Regions from separate parts of the Homo sapiens genome. Here all the other regions are linked to region 1. The links come from fine-mapping of genetic effects on gene expression. A gene starts in region 1. Each other region holds a variant in brackets. All regions are shown on one strand. Distances are from middle to middle. Region 1 holds the start of PGS1 (phosphatidylglycerophosphate synthase 1). Region 2 overlaps DNAH17 (dynein axonemal heavy chain 17). Region 3 overlaps PGS1 (phosphatidylglycerophosphate synthase 1).

Region 1 (6,406 bases):
AATGATAATGAGTCAGATGCTAGCTTAAGAGGAAATGACAGTGCTTCTAAATCATTAACAGAAGTAATTTTAAGTAGAGTTCTCTGTCTCTCTGGCTGTCTCTATGCCTGAAAGGAAACCGCGGCAGTAAAAGGAACGTCCCCTCACGAGGGTTCACTGGCCCTCCAACAGCTGACTCAGATCGACAAGCTAAAACCTAAAATAATTCAAGCTCATGACTGCACAGAACTATTATCAATGAATCAATGATCAGCGAGTTACAAGAAACCACATCATTCGGGGAATGAGAAATTGGGAGGTGCAACTGAATAATGGAGAAGAAAGCAAAGTCAGCAGCTAATAAAGGGTAAGCAGCCACAACAAACATGAATAACTCGAACACCAAGGCCACAACGAATCAGAAAAGAACTGCAAACCGAATAAGGCAAAGAAAGGCTCAGAAACCTACACTACCACTCAATACCGGTCAAAGCATTTATCCTCAGTCCTACCATAGGCATTATTTCCGAGGATTACAAAGCAAAAACTTCTGTCTTAATGCCCAAGAAACTGAGTTGCTGGTTGAACTGTTGTCCCAGAGAAACAATCATCTCTCTCAGCTTAATGAAGGATGAAGGCACACAAACTGCATCCACTCACACAATTTACAAAAAAAAGAGATTAGAAAGTCAATTTAGACTATCTCCACTGCCACACTGCCCCTCCCACCACCAAAAAACAAAAAAGTGGCTGGGCGCAGTGGCTCACACCTGTAATCCCAGCACTGTGGGAGGCCGAGGTGGGCAGGTTACAAGGTCAGGAGATCGAGGCCAGCCTGGCCAACATGGTGAAACCCTGTCTCTACTAAAGATACAAAAATTAGCCGGACGTGGTGGCATGTGTCTGTAGACCCAGCTACTCTGGAGGCTGAGGCAGGAGAATCACTTGAACCCACGAGGTAGAGGTTGCACTGAGCCGAGATCAGACCACTGCACTCCAGCCTGAGTGACAGAACAAGACTCTGTCTCAAAAAAAAAAAGAAAAAGAAAAAGAAAAAAAGCACACTCATGAGAGATTTCTTTTTTAAAATATTTGTGTCAACTGCCCCAACATCCTTTAGTAATCAATTCCAATGTTGAACAATGATTTATAATGAAGTGTTTTTCATATAGTTTAAACATATAGAGGGAAATGACAAAGTCACCTAAATCTTGTCTTCAAGGGTAGAACATTTTTTTGAAACTGTAAACCAAATCTCAGTGGTTTGATGCCAGGACGTAGAAGTCATCTGACTTCGTCACCCAGAGATGAGCAGGTCTTTTGTTAAACACTGAAAAAATGAAAATGCAAAAAATGCAGAGGCCATTTCTTTTACAGCCCCAGTCCTGCTGGGTTCACCAACGTGAAACCTAGCAGGTTTCCAAGAGCGCCATCCTGCCCTGATTCTATCACCTAAAAATTCCCCTAAATCAAACTTGAGTTTTCGATGAAAATCTTCCACCATAGATCACCATGAAGCAAGCTCTTTTCTGTACCTAGAATCAGTACACATGACTGGACCCCAGATCTCTGTACTAGATGTCTGACCCCAGGAGGTCAAATCTCACCCGAGGAGTACACGTACAGATAGAAAATCTAACACAATGCAACCTCAACTAAAGGAAGCAGTTCTAAGATTTTTTTTTTTAAAGATCAAGTGTAAGACTCAATTAAGAAACCTATTTGCAGCCGGGCACGGTGGCTCACGCCTGTAATCCCAGCACTTTGGGAGGCCGAGGCAGGTGGATCAACTGAGGCTGGGAGTTAGAGACCAGCCTGACCAACATGGAAAAACCCTGTCTCTACTAAAAATACAAAATTAGCCGGGTGTGGTGGCTTATGTCTGTAATCCCAGCTACTCGGGAGGCTGAGGCAGGAGAATCGCTTGAACCTGGAAGGTGGAGATTGAGGTGAGCCAAGATTGCGCCATTGCACTCCAGTCTGGGCAACGAGTGAAACTCCGTCTCAAAAAAAAAAGAAAAGAAAAGAAAACTATTTGCACACAAGAGAATTTTTTTTTTTTGAAACAGAGTTTTGCTCTTGTTGCCTAGGCTGGAGTGCAATGAGGCAATCTTGGCTCACTGCAAACTCCACCTCCTGGGTTCAAGCGATTCTCCTGCCTCAGGGTCAGCCTCCCAAGTAGCTGGGATTACAGCCATGCACCACCATGCCCAGCTAATTTTGTATTTTTAGTAGAGACGGTTTCACCATGTTGGTCAGGCTGGTCTTAAACTCCTGACCTCAGGTGATCCACCTGCCTCGGCCTCCCAAAGTGCTGGAATTACAGGCGTGAGCCACCACACCCGGCCAAGAATTATTTATCCCCTTTTTTTTAATATTAGCAAGCCTCAGGTCAGCATGTTCTTGGCAAATGTTTATTTTAAAAGACCACTGCCTGAACAAATTGCTCCAAAGCCTACTTCATCATTTACATAACTTCAGTACTTTTCCAGAACACAGGCCCTTTGAAATGTGTAAAAAGTGTTTCGAGTGGCTCCTCTTCCCATGCCTGAGTGTTACTAAGGATTGCTTCACAGCTTTTTCTGGCAGGATGTGAGAAACGCTCTATACACAAAATCCCAGCAACGGTGATTCACTCACAGCCAGGCTTACCTAAGGAAAAGACCCCTCTGAACTCTCCGACACTCACATCCTGGGGCCGAAACCATGATATAAACAGCCTCTGGAGCTTGACCGAAGCTCCCTGAACGCACACACAGTCCCTCTTTTAACGTGTAAGTGCACGGTGGCCGGGGCTCGCCAACAAGCACGGTGTAGACGGGGAGCAAGGACTGGCCGGGCTGCGCAGGAGGCCCGCCGGCTGGACCCGGCCGATAATGGAGCACGAGCCGCCCACCCTCCCTCAAGAAGGCCAGTGAAGAAGCACATAGGTCAGGCGCCGAGCCCCGGGAGGCAGAAATGGGCCCGGAAACCGGGGAGGGACTCGCTGCGGATGCCCAGGACGCTGGGGCCGGGAGTTTGAGCGCCGGGGGGCCGGGCTGCAGCCGCGAGGGCTGCACTCTCATCCCGGCCGCCCCTCTCACCTCCTGCGCTGGCGGTCCCGGTTCCTGCCGAGGCGGTCGGACAGGCGTCCCAGGAGCGCGGCCAGCCCTGGGCGGCCAGGCAGGAGGCCCAGCAGTCGCCTCCAGAACACGGGTCCCGCCGCAGCTGCCGCCGCCACCGCCATGGAGACTCGCCGCTTCCGCTTCCGCTCCCGGCGGGCGCGAACTTTATTGACAAAGGCGAGCGCGGACACGGCTCAGGCGCGCAGGCGCGGAACCCCTGGCTCGGGGAGGGCGGCGCTGCACCGCCCCCAAGCCTCAGTTTCCCCTCTGGGGGACACAGGCGAGGAACAGTGGTCGCGCCGCAGGAGGGGGTCGGAAGCCGGCCCGTTAAATCCGTAAGGGCGCCAGGTGGCCTGCATTCCTGCAGTCACTCGTCACAGGTCGCGGAGGAAAGGATGCGGCGCAGGGGCTCTAGCACCGTCACGCTTGGCTCCAACTCACCAGCTGTCAAAAAAGCTTTTGTTTGTTTGTTTTGAGACAGAGTCTCGGTCTGTGTCCCAGGCTGGAGTGCAGTGGCGCGATCTTGGCGCATTGCAGCCTCGACCTCCCGGCCTCAGGGGATCCTCTCAAAGTGCTGGGACCACTCCCAAAGTGCTGGGACCACCAAAGTGCGTGTGCCACCATGCCCGGCTAATTCTTTACTTTTTTGTCGAGATGGGGGTCTCACTACGTTGCCCAGGCCGGTCTCGAGCTCCTGGGCTCAAGAGATCATCCAGCCTCAGCCTCCCAAAGTGTTGCCATTACAGACATGAGCCACCGAGCCTGACCACTGGCTGTCAAGATTGACTCCTCGGCCGGCGCAGTGGCTCACGCCTGTAATCCCTGCACTCTGGGAGGCAGAGGCGGGTGGATCACCTGAAGTCAGGAGTTCGAGACCAGCCTGGCCAACCTGATGAAACCCCGTCTCTACTAAAAATGCAAAAAATTAGCTGGGCGCAGTGGCCCATGCCTGTAATCCCAAACTACTCAGGAGGCTGAGGCAGGATAATCGCTTGAACCCAGGAGGTGGAGGTTGCAGTGAGCCAAGATCGAACCACTGTACTCCAGCCTGGGCAACAAGAGCAAAACTCCGTCAAAAAAAAAAAAAAAAAAAAAAAAAAAGGACTTCTCACTGATAAGTGAGGGAATTACTGTTTGAGGCTCTAATTGATAGGGTGTTCTTTAGACTTGTACAACACCCCTAAGGTGTTAAACTTGAACAAAGTCTGTTCTTGTACAAAGTCTTGTAACCTGGTTAACGCTGACTCACTAAGGTGCACAGAACCACGGAAAATCCCCACCAGACTGAGAGAGGAATCATTTTTCACCCTGTTAGCCCCAGAGGCTGCAGCTCCATGGCACAGAACAGCCTAAGCAAATCTGTGTGAGATGAACAGTCTTCCACCCTCCTGATATGCCCAAGTACACAGATATCACTGGCCCCTGGCAACACACAGTTCTATGCCCAAAAAGCTGACGGAGCACATCCTCATACACCAAGAACACTTTTTTTTTTTTTTTTTTTTTGAGGCAGGGTTTCACTCTTGTCACCCAGGCTGGAGTGCAATGGCGCAATCTTGGCTCACTGCAACCTCTGCCTCCTGGGATCAAGAGATTTTCCTGTCTCAGCCTCCGGAATAGCTGGGATTACAGGCGTGCGCCACCACGCCTGGCTAATTTTTGTATTTTTAGTAGAGACAGGGTTTCACCGTGTTGGCCAGGCTGGTCTCAAACTCCTGACCTCAAGTGATCCACCCAACTCGGCCTTCCAAAGTGCTGGGATTACAGGCGTGAGCCACCGCGCCCGGCCCAAGAACACTTTTTGCAGCTAATTTTAAAATGGAAAACTTTGTGGCATTCTGAAAGGCAGGAGAGGTGATCTCTGATCTGTAATATGCAGCTCCCTGGCTGACCCACATAGGCTGGGACCTGGAAACTGGAAAAGCTGTAGGACATAATCATAGTCTGCCGTGTTGTGAGGTTAAAATGATATGGACACGTGGGCCGGGCGCAGTGGCTCACACCTGTAATCCCAGCACTTTGGGAGGCCGAGGCGGGCGGATCATCTGAGGTCGGGAGTTCGAGACCAGCCTCACCAACATGGAGAAACCCTGTCTCTACTAAAAATACAAAATTAGACGGGCATGGTGGCACATGCCTGTAATCCTAGCTACTCAGGAAGGCTGAGGCAGGAGAATCGCTTGAACCCGGGAGGCGGAGGTTGCAGTGAGTCGAGATCGCGCCATTGCACTCCAGCCTGGGCAACAAGAGCGAAACTCAGTCTCAAAAAAAAAAGATATGGACACACTGAAAAAAACACTCCAAAGTCCACTTCCACAGATTATGCAGGGAAATCAACTACACATTCCCACAAGAATGTTCATCTCAGCCTTGTTCATGATATCGGAAGTGTGGAAGCAAATCTTCAGGGTAGGGGGGTTGGTTAAATAATGATACATCGGTATGTTGGAAGACCACACAATCATAAAAATAACATGTTCTGGAAGAATATTTAATGACATTAAGTGTAAAAGCCAAATTACCAAGGAGTAGCGTAGAGACCATCTCATTTCATTAAAGGAGAGGAAGAAAGAGGAAATGCGTGTATGTACACAGAAAGACTGAAAGTAAATACCCCCAAATGTTAATGTTGGTTATTTGGTGCCATTAAGGAGTTTCCAAATTGTTGACAATCAACAAGTATTTCAGATTGGCTTAAAGTTTTCTTTTGCGTTTAGATAGCTTTACTAATACTACATGGAATTTGATTCAACCCTTCCAAGTTAGAAATGGTGAATCATCAAATTTCCTAACTTCCAGTAACTAGAATGAGGCCATCCATTGCATGGTTCCACTTTTGCACTGTTCCTGGCCCACGGTTGTTGCAGAGTAAACACTTGCTGTATGGCTACACCGTCATGCTCAGCGGTGAGCGCCACATGGGCTATGGGAGCCTGGTTATCATCCTAGAAGGAGCTGGCAGCTTTTCTGCATGGGTGCTTTGCTGTGCGAGGTACTGAGACAAACAGCCATGGTACAGGCTCACTGGGAATTCCCAACCTTAAAGAAATGCTAGCAACAGACAGCAATATTGATAGCATGGTAAGTCACACTAATAAGTATTTACCCTAAGGATAACATCAAGGAATGACCCAGTCCCTTCTGAAACCACACATCGAGAGCCTCTGGCCTTCATGGCTAGTTTAAAACAGACAGAGCTATCACCAGAGTGAGGCAACCACGACTTTGCTGGGGACACATACATTTTGAGGTTGCAAAAATGTTAAATAATGGTTTTCAGAGATTGTGCAATTTTTAAATGATTCCATTTACAGGATGACAGC
Region 2 (5,000 bases), 73 kb before region 1:
CCAGAGAATGAGACCCTGTCTCAAAAAGCAAAACTGTTTCCATTTTCATCTCCACTCCCATAAGAGCACGGGGGCAGTTTACAAAGAAGCCCCTCGGCTCCTTTCAGGAAAGGGCGAGCTGTTGGGAACAAGTTGTGGGCTCCTAGGTCACCCCTCGCTTGGCGCTGTCTCGCTCAGAGGGCAGGGGCTGCTGGTCGGAGCGTGCGCACCGTTCCATCACGAGGCCCTCTGCCATGAACCAGCTTCCGTGTTGTGCCCGCAGCTACCTGGATGTCATCGAGCAGGCCATCTCGGAAGGGGACACCTTGCTCATTGAGAACATCGGCGAAACCGTGGACCCCGTGCTGGACCCTCTACTGGGCAGGAACACGATTAAAAAGGGAAAGTGAGTTGTTTCCGCCTCCGTGGCTTGAGCCAGGTAAACATCTTCAGGCCCGAGGCCTGGGCGTGTGCATGTAGAGAAAACGCCCGGAATTTCCTTTGCTTCCCTGGTAAGCAGCAAGGGCTTTGACAAAGTGCCTGCTGGTGGGAAGGAACCCCCAGCTCCTGAGGAAAGACTGGAAAGAGGGGCCACTTCCCAATTAGGAATATCTCCGCCAACATTTTATCAGTGATGGCCTCCAGATGGGGAGGCTTGAAGGTGATGTCTGTCTTCATTCTGTTCTTAGGCATTTTGCAAATCTTGGGACTGCATTACCTTTAAAAATTCACATAACGTAAAATTAACCACATTAAAATACACAATTGAGCATTTGGTACACTCACGATGTTGTACAAACACATCTGTCCAGTTGCACATTTTCACCACCCCGAAAGGAAGCCCTGTACCCACTCTTCTTCATTCCCCTCCCTCCTGAGCCCTAACATCCACTACTCTGCTCTCTGTGTCTGTGGATTTGCCTATTCTGGACATTTCCTCTGAAGAGAATCAAGCAACATGTGTCTTTTTGTGTCTGGCTCTTTTTACTCAGCATTTTTTGTTTGTTTTTTGAGATGGAGTCTCGCTCTGTCGTCCAGGCTGGAGTCCAGTGGTACGATCTCTGCTCACTGCAGCCTCTGCCTCCTGGGTTCAAGTGATTCTCCTGCCTCAGCCTCCCAAGTAGCTGGGATTACAGGAACACACCAACGTGCCCAGCTAATTTTTGTATTTTTAGTAGAGACGGGGTTTCCCCATGTTGGCCAGGATGATCTCGAACTCCTGACCTCAGGTGATCCACCTGCCTCGGCCTCCCCAAGTGCTGGGATTACAGGCGGGAGCCACCGCGCCCGGCCTTTACTTAGCATGTTTTTTGGGGTCATGCACGTGGTCGCATGTGTCAGTCCTTCATTCCTCTTGATGGCAGAATCATTTTCCACGTGTGGCCGGGCGCATTGTGTTTGTCCACTCATCAGCTGATGCGTGGAGCTTGCATTATTCATTTTACAATTTTAAAAAATTAAATCTACTTTAAAAATGTAAATGTCAGAGCTGACAGGAGCCACCTTTAAATGCAGAGATGCATGCAGAAACCCAGAACCCAGGAGGTGGCAAATCAATATGCAGAGGTCCTAGACTCTGGGAGGGGCCTGGTGTGAGTGCTGAGGGGTGAAGCTAGCCAGAGGCCCCTCAAAGTGAGCCCAGCTACAAAGAGGGGACAGCAGGGTGTAGAGCCGGAGAGAAGCGCCCCCCACAGTGGATGAGCAGACCCAGGGTTGCAGTCCTGGGAGCTTCCAGAATGGACGAATGTTGTAAATGAGTCTGGGTGGAGGCCAAGCAGAAGGTTTCGGTCAGGGCTCCCAGGGGAGGACAGAGTATCGCCAGAGGGGTGTAAACCCTGCTGCAAAGATGAGCCTGATCACCCAAGGAAAGAGCAGGTGCATCTCCCAGAAGGGCCCACGTCACAGGCCAGGGAGGAGGAACAGACAAGGAGAGGTGCAGTGCTCTTCCAGGGACCAGAAGGGAGGGTTCAAGGTGGCGGCCTGGCCTGGGGCTGGGGTGAAAGGTGGTCTGTACTTGTGTTCCTCTCCCCTGGTCACTGGGAGGCCCACTAACCCTTTCCTCCACCAACCGCCAGGTACATTAAGATCGGTGACAAGGAGGTGGAGTACCACCCCAAGTTCCGCCTGATCCTACACACCAAGTACTTCAACCCACACTACAAGCCAGAGATGCAGGCTCAGTGCACCCTCATCAACTTCCTGGTCACCAGGGATGGACTCGAGGACCAACTCTTGGCCGCTGTGGTGGCCAAAGAGCGCCCAGATCTGGAACAGCTGAAGGTAATGGCCTGAAGTTTGGTCACACGGGAGGAGGTGCCGTCCCACACAGAGGGGGCCAGGTCACTGTGAGGGTCCCCGACCAGGGCTGCCAGTCCAGTGTGTGTCGTTGCTTCTCTCTGAAGGTGCCTCAGTGTGTCCCACGGCATCACAGCTTCTCATACGACAGGATGGCTCATTTCCTTCCCCAGCTGTCCCCTCTTCCTGCTCCCAAATTTAATTCTAAGTCACATGACCTCTTTGCTTAAAGAACATGAGTCACAGCGGTCCTCGGGGGCTCTAAGCTCCAAAGCGCTGCCCTGCAAGAATGGCCTGGCTGCCAGCCCTTGCACCTGCCACATTTCTGGCTGTTATAGCCACTTGCATGGGCTCAGGAGGCCCAGGCCCGCCTGTCCCCGTTCTGCC[C/T]CCTACAGTCTCCGTGACAGGAAGCCTCAAGGCTGGGAGCAGGGCCAGGGCCTCTCTGAGGTTCCAGGGGCTCTGCTTCTGCAGCCCCTTCCAGGACCTGAGCTCGTTCCTCCCGCTCAAAGCCTGGGCCTTGGCTCAGCTACATGGCCACCTGAGGGAGGCCCGGGTGCCCGGTGGACAGAGCCAGGCAATGCAGTGACTCCTGCACCTCCCCTTGCAGGCAAACCTCACCAAGTCTCAAAACGAATTTAAGATTGTTCTGAAAGAGCTGGAAGATTCGCTCCTGGCCCGTCTGTCGGCTGCGTCGGGGAACTTTCTGGGAGACACGGCCTTGGTGGAGAATCTGGAGACCACCAAGCACACAGCCAGCGAGATCGAGGAGAAGGTCAGAGCTGCCTCGGTGACGTGCCCTGGCAGCCAGGGCTTGGGAGGCTGGGCCACGGGCGATCGGCGCCTCCCTACCATGAGAAAGGAGAAAAGCAGCTTCGGTCATACGTGCCCGAGTGGGCCCAGGGCAGGAGAAGGGGTCTGGGCTCCCATCCTGCACCCAGCTGCTGCTGAGAGCCCTTGGGTGGCTTCCCAGGGAGCGAGGCTGGTGGCTGGGAATGAGCCCACCTGCTCATGGCACTGCCCATCTGCTGTGTCATTCACACCCCTTTTGTTTGTGTCGAGGTGGTGGAGGCAAAAATCACAGAAGTTAAAATCAACGAAGCGAGAGAGAACTACCGCCCGGCTGCGGAGAGGGCATCTCTGCTCTACTTCATACTGAACGATCTCAACAAAATCAACCCCGTCTACCAGTTCTCCCTCAAGGTGCGCCCTGCAGCTGGGGCTGGGTGCCTCCCTCAAGGTGGGGCTGCATCTGGGCTCCACAGCCAGGCCTGTTGCCCACACAGCCATCGGGCAGTGCCAGGGCCACCCTCAGAGGGCAGACCTGGTCCAGCCTGCAGATGGAGCTGGAAGAGGGGGAGCCAGGGGCCCCCATCAGTCCTACACCCATTCTCCCCAGGAGAGGGTATGAGCTGCTCCCTCCTCCCTGCTCTTCCCCTGGTGCCTCCAGGCACTCACAACCCAATCAAAACAAACTGGATGGCCTGGCATGGTGGCTCATGCCTGTCATCTCAGCACTATGGGGGGCCGAGGCGGGTGGATCACCTGAGGTCAGGAGTTCAAGACCAGCCTGACCAACATGGTGAAACCCTGTCTGTACTAAAAATAAAAAAAAATTAGCCAGGTGTGGTGGTGTGCGCCTTGGGAGGCTGAGGCAGGAGAATCGCTTGAACACTGCAACCTCCCTCACTGCAGAGGGTGCAGTGAGCCAAGATCACGCCACTGCACTCCAGCCTGGGCGACAGAGCAAGACTCTGTCTCAAAGAAACAAAACAAACTGGAGGCCACCACAGGTGGCAGGGAGTGGTGGCGGGGAGTGGTGAAGGGCTCCATCTCTGCACGCCTCCATGGCTCTCGGTGGCGGATCCCCAGGCCTTCAACGTGGTGTTTGAGAAAGCCATCCAGAGGACCACCCCTGCCAACGAGGTGAAGCAGCGGGTGATCAACCTGACGGACGAGATCACCTACTCCGTCTACATGTACACGGCCCGGGGACTCTTCGAGAGGGACAAACTCATTTTCCTGGCACAAGTTACGTTTCAGGTAATGTCTAGCCTCACTGTTCCTAGTGTGGTCCGTGGACCAGCGGTGTCACTGACCCCTGGGAGCTTTGTGGAAAGGCAGATTGTTGGGCCCCCACCCAAACCTGGTGATTTCAAACCCGCATTTTAGCAATATACCCAGGTGATTATAAAGTCTGAGATGCCTGACGTGGAACAGGCCTGGGGCTCTCCTAGTTGATATTTGGGAAGCTGGCACAGTATTCCAATGGGAGCTAGTGAAGGGGTGGTGTTTTAAGGAGAATTTCACAAGGAAATTCATTTTACATGTAAGTTGTGCTGAGTAAATAGTCCTGCATTAGTGCTTAGCCCACTGTGGGGTGACTGATGTTTCTTAAGAAATAAGTGTATGAATAAACAAATATTCCTCCTGTTTATACAGCCCTGCTAAAATATTTAAAGATCTGCATTCTCTGAAATTGATTAAACAGCCTGTCTTAATTTGTTTTGTGCGGCTATAACAGAATACCCAAGGCTGAGTAATCTATAAACAATAGAAATTTATTTCTCATGGTCCTGGGGTCTGGGAAGTTCCATATGAAAGTGCTGGCATCTGGCAAGGGCCTTCTTGCTGTGTCATCCCATGGTGGAAGGCTAGAGGGCGAGAGAGAGCACAAAACGGGCCAAACTCCTTGTGTAACAAACCCACTCCCTTGATCATGACATTAA
Region 3 (6,406 bases), 45 kb before region 1:
CACGACCGACGTGGAAGATCTGTCCACGGCTCTCTTCTATGACACCGTGCCTGATACGTGGGTGGCCCGGGCCTACCCCTCCATGATGGGCCTGGCGGCCTGGTACGCAGACCTGCTGCTCCGCATCAGGGTAAGTGCCGTTTTCTCTGAGAGGCTTCCTAAGACTCGGGGACCGAGTGCCCAGAGCTCGGCACACCCCACACCCTAGAGCCTGCAGGAGCATGGCCAGGAGGCTCCTGGGGGCCTGTCCTCTGTCAGATCAGGGCCAGAAGGGCCTAGCCCATGCCCCTCCCACACCCTGACAGTGCAGCCATTTCCTCCCAAAGGAGGAAAACAAGCCAGGCCGCAGAGCAGCTTCCATCAGCTCCTCCTCAAGCGACCCTCAAAGGGTAAGCCGTCCTCTATAAGGAGCGAGGCAATGAAGGCAAGAGCCTCTTTGGGCTCCTAAATTATCCACAAACAGGAAGCCATTTTCTTCCTGACCCTTCTCTACCTGTTCCCTTGTTTAAAATGGAGCAAACAGCAGCTGGACACGGTGGTTCACACCTGTAATCCCAGCACTTTGGGAGACCAAGGCAGGCAGATCACTTGAAGCCAGGAGTTCGAGACCAGCCTGGCCAACATGGCGAAACCCCATCTCTAAAAATACAAAAATAAGCTGGGCATGGTGGCCTGCACCTGTAATCCCAGCTACTCTGGAAGCTGAGGCAGGAGAATTGCTTGAACCCGGGAGGCGGAGGTTGCGTTGAGCCAAGATTGCACCACTGCACTCCAGCCTGGGTGACAGAGCGATACTTCATCTCAAAAAAAAAAAAAAAAAAAAAAAAAAAGCAGACACCAAAGTTGCGTCATGGTAGGTGGCTGGGCTCCATGGCCCCTACTCTGTCCAGCACTTCTAGCTCGCTGAGTGGCCCGTGGAAGGTTCTGGCGTGACCCCTGCTCAGAACGGCCAAGGCCCGGTCGTTCCCATGTCATTCTATGTCCTCTCCTCCTAGCGGCTCGTGTGTCCTTGCAGGAACTCGAGGCCTGGACGACAGACTTTGCCCTGCCCACCACCGTGTGGCTGGCCGGCTTCTTCAACCCCCAGTCGTTCCTCACGGCCATCATGCAGTCCATGGCCAGGAAGAACGAGTGGCCCCTGGACAAGATGTGTCTGTCTGTCGAGGTGACCAAGAAAAACCGAGAGGACATGACCGCTCCTCCGCGAGAGGGCTCCTACGTGTACGGACTCTTCATGGAAGGTAAGGAGGGCTCTTGTCTGTCTGCAGAAGCTTCCAGAGCCAGTGCTACTTGCCAAGACAAGATAAAACTAGCTCTTGGCAAAGACAGGCTGTTCAAGAGCTGTGGGGACAGGCAGGAGAGAGGTGCTCTCAGGGGGCATCAGCCTGCAGGTCAGAGCCACGCTGACCCTAGAGAGGGTTGAGAGGATTCAGGGAATGTGCAGGGTCTGGAGGAGACCAAAAACACCCCAGTCACCTGGCCTCTGCTTTAATGAAAACAGCAGAGCTTGTGAGAGAGCAGCTCCGACGTGATGAAAAGCGCTGAAAAGCCCAGGCTTTCCCTGCCACGGAGCAGTCAGCCCAGGGCAGAAGTGCGTTTTGTGGCTGCACTGAGACTCCAGGTCATGCTGGCTGGCCCAGTCTCACCCACTCCCCAGCTGCTGCCACTCCTGGAACACAGGGTTCAAGGGAAAAGAGGCTGGGGCACCTGTTAGAAGTCCGCCCCCACATCACCCCTGTCCTGCTACACAGAAGAGGTCAGCCAGGACACCGAGGCCGGCCATCTTCTCAGCCCGCCTCTGAGTTGAGCAGCAATGCCACCACCACATACCTGTCCCCTTCAACAGCTGACGTCACCCCATTACCTGTGGGGTGGCAGGGTTGGGCCAGCAACGGCTCAGGCACCCCATTTCCCACACAACCAAAGATAAGCTCTCCATGTTTGTTTATTTTGAGATTTCAGACAGGAAATAAAAACACCATTAAATAGGGCGAGTAGAAATAATAGCAGTCTGGTTAAAGGCAATATTTATATGCACAGATGTATAATTATATTGTGTATGTACACATAGGGCAGACATTACACATTAAGAATCAGGGAACTTTACTCTGTAATTTTTAGCTGGAGTTATGACTTCCTGCCACTGACATTAAGGCTGACAGATGAGGCTCTGAAAATGCCACAGATTTAAACGGATGGAACCCGAGGGCTTTAGCTGAGCTGTTCCTTGAGCCCAGCGGGACGGGGTAGTTACAACATGCAGGCCATCACCTACGAAG[G/T]CCTCTGCTTCCAGCCGTGGCAGCTGGCCTGAAGCCTTTTGGGGTAGAGCCCAGCTCTGCAGAGGGCGGGGAGTGTGAGGACCCCACCCTTCCTGCCAGCCCCTCCCTCACTTACTGGCAGCACACCTGACCCTCAGCCATACTGTCCCTGCAGGGGCTCGCTGGGACACCCAGACTGGAGTCATCGCTGAAGCGCGGCTGAAAGAGCTGACCCCGGCCATGCCTGTCATCTTCATCAAGGCCATTCCTGTGGACCGCATGGAGACCAAGAACATCTATGAGTGTCCCGTGTACAAAACACGCATCCGCGGCCCCACCTATGTCTGGACCTTTAACTTGAAGACCAAAGAGAAGGCAGCGAAGTGGATCCTGGCAGCCGTGGCGCTGCTCCTACAGGTTTAGCTCGCTCCTGCCTCACAGCCCACACTCCCTGGGGCTGGACCACAACTCAGCCCTTCACCTGTGCACCTGTGACTTATTCTTTACAGGAACTGGTGGTGGTTTTTCGTTCTCTTAAATAATCAGGTGCTTTGTAACCAAGCACATCGGAACCAGAGGGTGGAGGTTGGTGTGGAAGAGGTGGGGCAGATTAAAGCCAGTGGAGCCACTCAGCTGTGCCCATCCATTCTGTGCCTGATGGCCACTGTGAGGCCTGGTTCAGGCTTTGGGGAAAGGCCCCAATTCCCAGCAGCCAGAGGCAAGCATTCCAGGAAGTAAATCCCAAATCCTGACTTCCCGGGGGGGTCAGTGGAGTTTGCTTTTAACAGGAGCAGCATGTGGGGTGAGGGCTTGGCACTCACACCCTCTGGCCTGATGCTTCATGCAAACCACCTGCCAATGAGGGGACAGGGCGTTACCCCATACCAGGAGCTGCCGCCTCCACACAGCGTCTCATCCGCCATTACTCCCTGCTCCCAAAAACAACAGGACCTTTTACAAGTAAGGAAACACACCCAAGCCCCCGCCCCCAGAGTCTAGAAGAACAAGCCGTTCCCACAAGCAAGCCCCGGACCTGTAGGACTCTGTGGCTGGGCTGATGCAGGACACGGCAGTGAGGTGGCCAGGCTAGCTAGGGCAGCAGGGTGCAGGCACGAGGGGAGAGAATTAACTAGCAACCTGGGGGATGAGGGGAGACAGCGGCAAACGTCAGAAAAGACGGATCCCAGGGGGACCAAGACAGGATCAACATTTTTTTTTTTTTTCGAGGGAGAGTGAGAGTTTCACTCTTGTCGCCCAGGCTGGAGTGCAATGACGCAATCTCGGCTCACGTTGCAACCTCCACCTCCTGGGCTCAAGCGATTCTCCTGCCTCAACCTCCCAAGTAGCTGGGGTTACAGGCACCCACCACCACACGCAGCTAATTTTTTTATTTTTAGTAGAGATGGGGTTTCACCATGTTGGCCAGGCTGGTCTCAAACTTCTAACCTCAGGTGATTCACCAACCTCGGCCTCCCAAAGCGCCAGGATTACAGGTGTCAACCACTGTGCCCGGCCCTCAACATTTCTCAGGCTTCAAAGAAAAGCAGGCCGCTGCAGCAGCTCACGCCTCTAATCCCAGGACGGCAATCTTACTTGAGCCCAGGAGTTTAAGACCAGCCTGGGCAACGTGGCAAAACCATCTCTATCAATCAAAAATACAAAAAATTAGCTGGGAATGTTGTATGTGCCTGTGGTCCCAGCTACTCAGGAGGCTGAGGCAGGAGGGTCGCTTGAGCCCATGAGGTCAAGTACGCAGCGAGGCATGATCATGCCACTCACTCCAGCCTGGGTGACAGAGTGAGACCCTGTCTCAAAAGGGGGAAAAAAGGCAAACACACCCATTAGGAATATCGTTCTACGTTCAGCTTGATCATCAAGTTTTGCAAAAACATTTTTCCAAGTTTACTCACCTAAATCATGGGTTAAGAAGCATCTAGAAAGTCCAAATTCTGAGGGTAATGATTCACAACAATCTTAGCGCCCAGTAGGGCTATCGGAGGGAAAAGAAAAATCCTCCCCTCCTGGCGCCCAAGGAATCCAGCCCTTTGTGGCTGCAGAGAAGGGAAGCAGTTTCAGCCTCCCCCAGCCTGGCTGGGCCAATACCTCTGCTGGCCAGGAGGGGTCACTGCAGCCCTTCAGGTGACCAGGGGAGCTAAAGCCACCAGGGGCCACCGGGCAACTCACTTCAGTCCCTGGTAATAACCACAAAATGTGACGTTTTTCCATTTTGCCTTTAGATCCTGAAATAAGAAAGTAATCTAGTCCACACATACATATTGTGGGTAGTTGACAAAATTATCTCTAAACTTTCCAAGAAATGATTCGCACTTAAGCTGCACTCCAGCGACGGGGAACACAGGGACTGGAACACGACAGCCCCGCGCACCTAGAAAGCCGGGAGGACTGCGGCGGCCGCCGCCCGCCGCCCGCTGCTCTCTGTTGCTCCGGCTGCTTTGCAGAGTTAGGGAGGCTTGGTGTGGGGAGCTCCTCAGGGAGAACCTGCCTAGGACAGCCTCGAAGGTCATCAGCAGAGACAGAGGGAGCAGTGTGCGCTGCGGGAACGGCACTGCAGATAGATTGCTTAAGCCTGGCTGTGGCATAATGATATTTACTCTGGTCCCACAGAATCTGGAGGAATGCGAACTCTGTTTACCGAGAGCCTCTCTCCAAACAGAAACCCAGTGCCCCTGCACATTCCTTTGGCTCCTCCAGTCTAATTGTCCCACAGGACACCGTAATAACTAGTTGGAAGGCAAACAGTGTTAACTGATGTGATGTGCTGCTGTCCAGGGCACTGTGGCCAGGCCGCCGCTCCACCTATCCCCAGCCACTCAAACTGCAGGTCTGCCTGGTGCGGAAGCTGCAACTGTCCTTGTCTAAGACCAGGTGAGCCTATGCAACCTTTCAGACCCCATGAAGGGTGACAGTGACTCCTGCCAGCCCTCGGGAGGGAAAGGCGAGAAGCTGCTTCTAGAGAGGCAAAGTGCAGGGACTAAATCTAATCTCACTCCCCGAAAGGACAGGCTGCCATGCCCTGTAGCCCAGGAAGCTTCTCTCTGTGCAAGGGTCAAGCACCTGAAGATGATAAAGAGATCAGGCAGTGAGGTCACAAAAGCAGCTCCTGGAGACACTGGGGGATATGGAGAGCTGGCTTTATAAACACACATGACATGTATTCAAAATCCCCTGCTACTAGGTGACACAAAAATGTTTTAAGTAGATCCAATAAAAATAAAGTTCATTCTTCAAAAAATAAATTGCTAGGGAAAAAACAATCACAAGGTGTAGTCCTTAATTGGACTTCAAGTCAAATAATCGAAAAAATTAATTTTAAGGCAAGTGGAATTGTGAACACCATTTAGGTATTTGATGATACTAAGACATTCTTGGTAATTTTTGTTTCAGGAGTGACACTGGTGCTGTTTTGGTTAAGTACACATTTTGGGGGAAGACAGCAGGATATGCACGTTATTTAGAAATACGGACACGTGTGCACATCAGAAGAAACAAGCCAAGAGTGGCTGCCTGGGGGAAGGGAGGGCAGGAAATGGCCGCAGTATTGTTTTACTCTCTACATTTGCACACACTATTCAAATAAAATGAAAAGTAATTAAAATAACTAGGAAAAGCTGCAGATAAACTACACATTTTTAAACAATGAGACTTAGCAGAGCACTAAGGTGCCAGGCACTAAGGGAGCCCACGCTGCACACATGAGATGCCGGCACTAGCGCATGTGCCGGCCACATGGGTCCTGGCTCATCTTTGACTCCTCACCGTCCCTTCCCCACAAGCCACCATCCAAAGGCCCAGCCATCCAAAGCAACAGAACTACCCACAACATCCAGAACCAGAGAGCAGGGGCCTCGGGAGCCTGACCCCACCCGGAGTGCAGTCCAGGCCCTGAGGGATCCAGGACACAAAAGGTCACTCAGCAAAGACCCCACCTTTAATGGCAGCCACCCCCTGCCCGGACCTCTAGGCGTCAAGACAGTCCAGGGGTACCTCAGGTGACTGTGGGACCCCACTGGTGCCTCTGGTGAAGCGGCAGGCCCCTCCTGGGTGGGCAGAGCAGGTCCTGTTACTCAACTTCCAGAGTCTAGAAGGGCGCAGCTCTGTAACCGCAGCACAGGGATGTCAGCGAGGCG

The links.
Region 2: its variant is fine-mapped to the expression of PGS1 in gastroesophageal junction (GTEx, PIP above 0.99).
Region 3: its variant is fine-mapped to the expression of PGS1 in whole blood (TOPMed, PIP above 0.99).

The regions. Positions count from the first base shown.
Region 1 is chr17:78,375,465-78,381,870 of GRCh38, reverse strand. PGS1 (phosphatidylglycerophosphate synthase 1) reads right to left here and starts at 3,222. Exons shown (of 10, transcript NM_024419.5): 1 at 3,063-3,222. The coding sequence starts at 3,205. RefSeq lists a silencer at 2,937-3,176 and an enhancer at 2,372-3,333.
Region 2 is chr17:78,448,728-78,453,727 of GRCh38, reverse strand. DNAH17 (dynein axonemal heavy chain 17) reads left to right here. Exons shown (of 81, transcript NM_173628.4): 65 at 263-385; 66 at 2,055-2,259; 67 at 2,882-3,046; 68 at 3,334-3,474; 69 at 4,144-4,314. Among named protein-coding and RNA genes, the nearest start is that of DNAH17-AS1, 34 kb to the left of the region's middle. RefSeq lists an enhancer at 2,692-3,270 and a silencer at 3,400-3,621. The variant C/T (reference allele first, on the strand shown) is at 2,662.
Region 3 is chr17:78,420,181-78,426,586 of GRCh38, reverse strand. It overlaps PGS1 (phosphatidylglycerophosphate synthase 1), which reads right to left. Exons shown (of 10, transcript NM_024419.5): 10 at 1,928-2,526. It overlaps DNAH17 (dynein axonemal heavy chain 17), which reads left to right. Exons shown (of 81, transcript NM_173628.4): 79 at 1-130; 80 at 1,016-1,241; 81 at 2,434-2,890. The coding sequence ends at 2,681. Among named protein-coding and RNA genes, the nearest start is that of PGS1, 45 kb to the right of the region's middle. RefSeq lists enhancers at 1-163, 164-664, 3,458-4,037, 6,311-6,406. The variant G/T (reference allele first, on the strand shown) is at 2,280.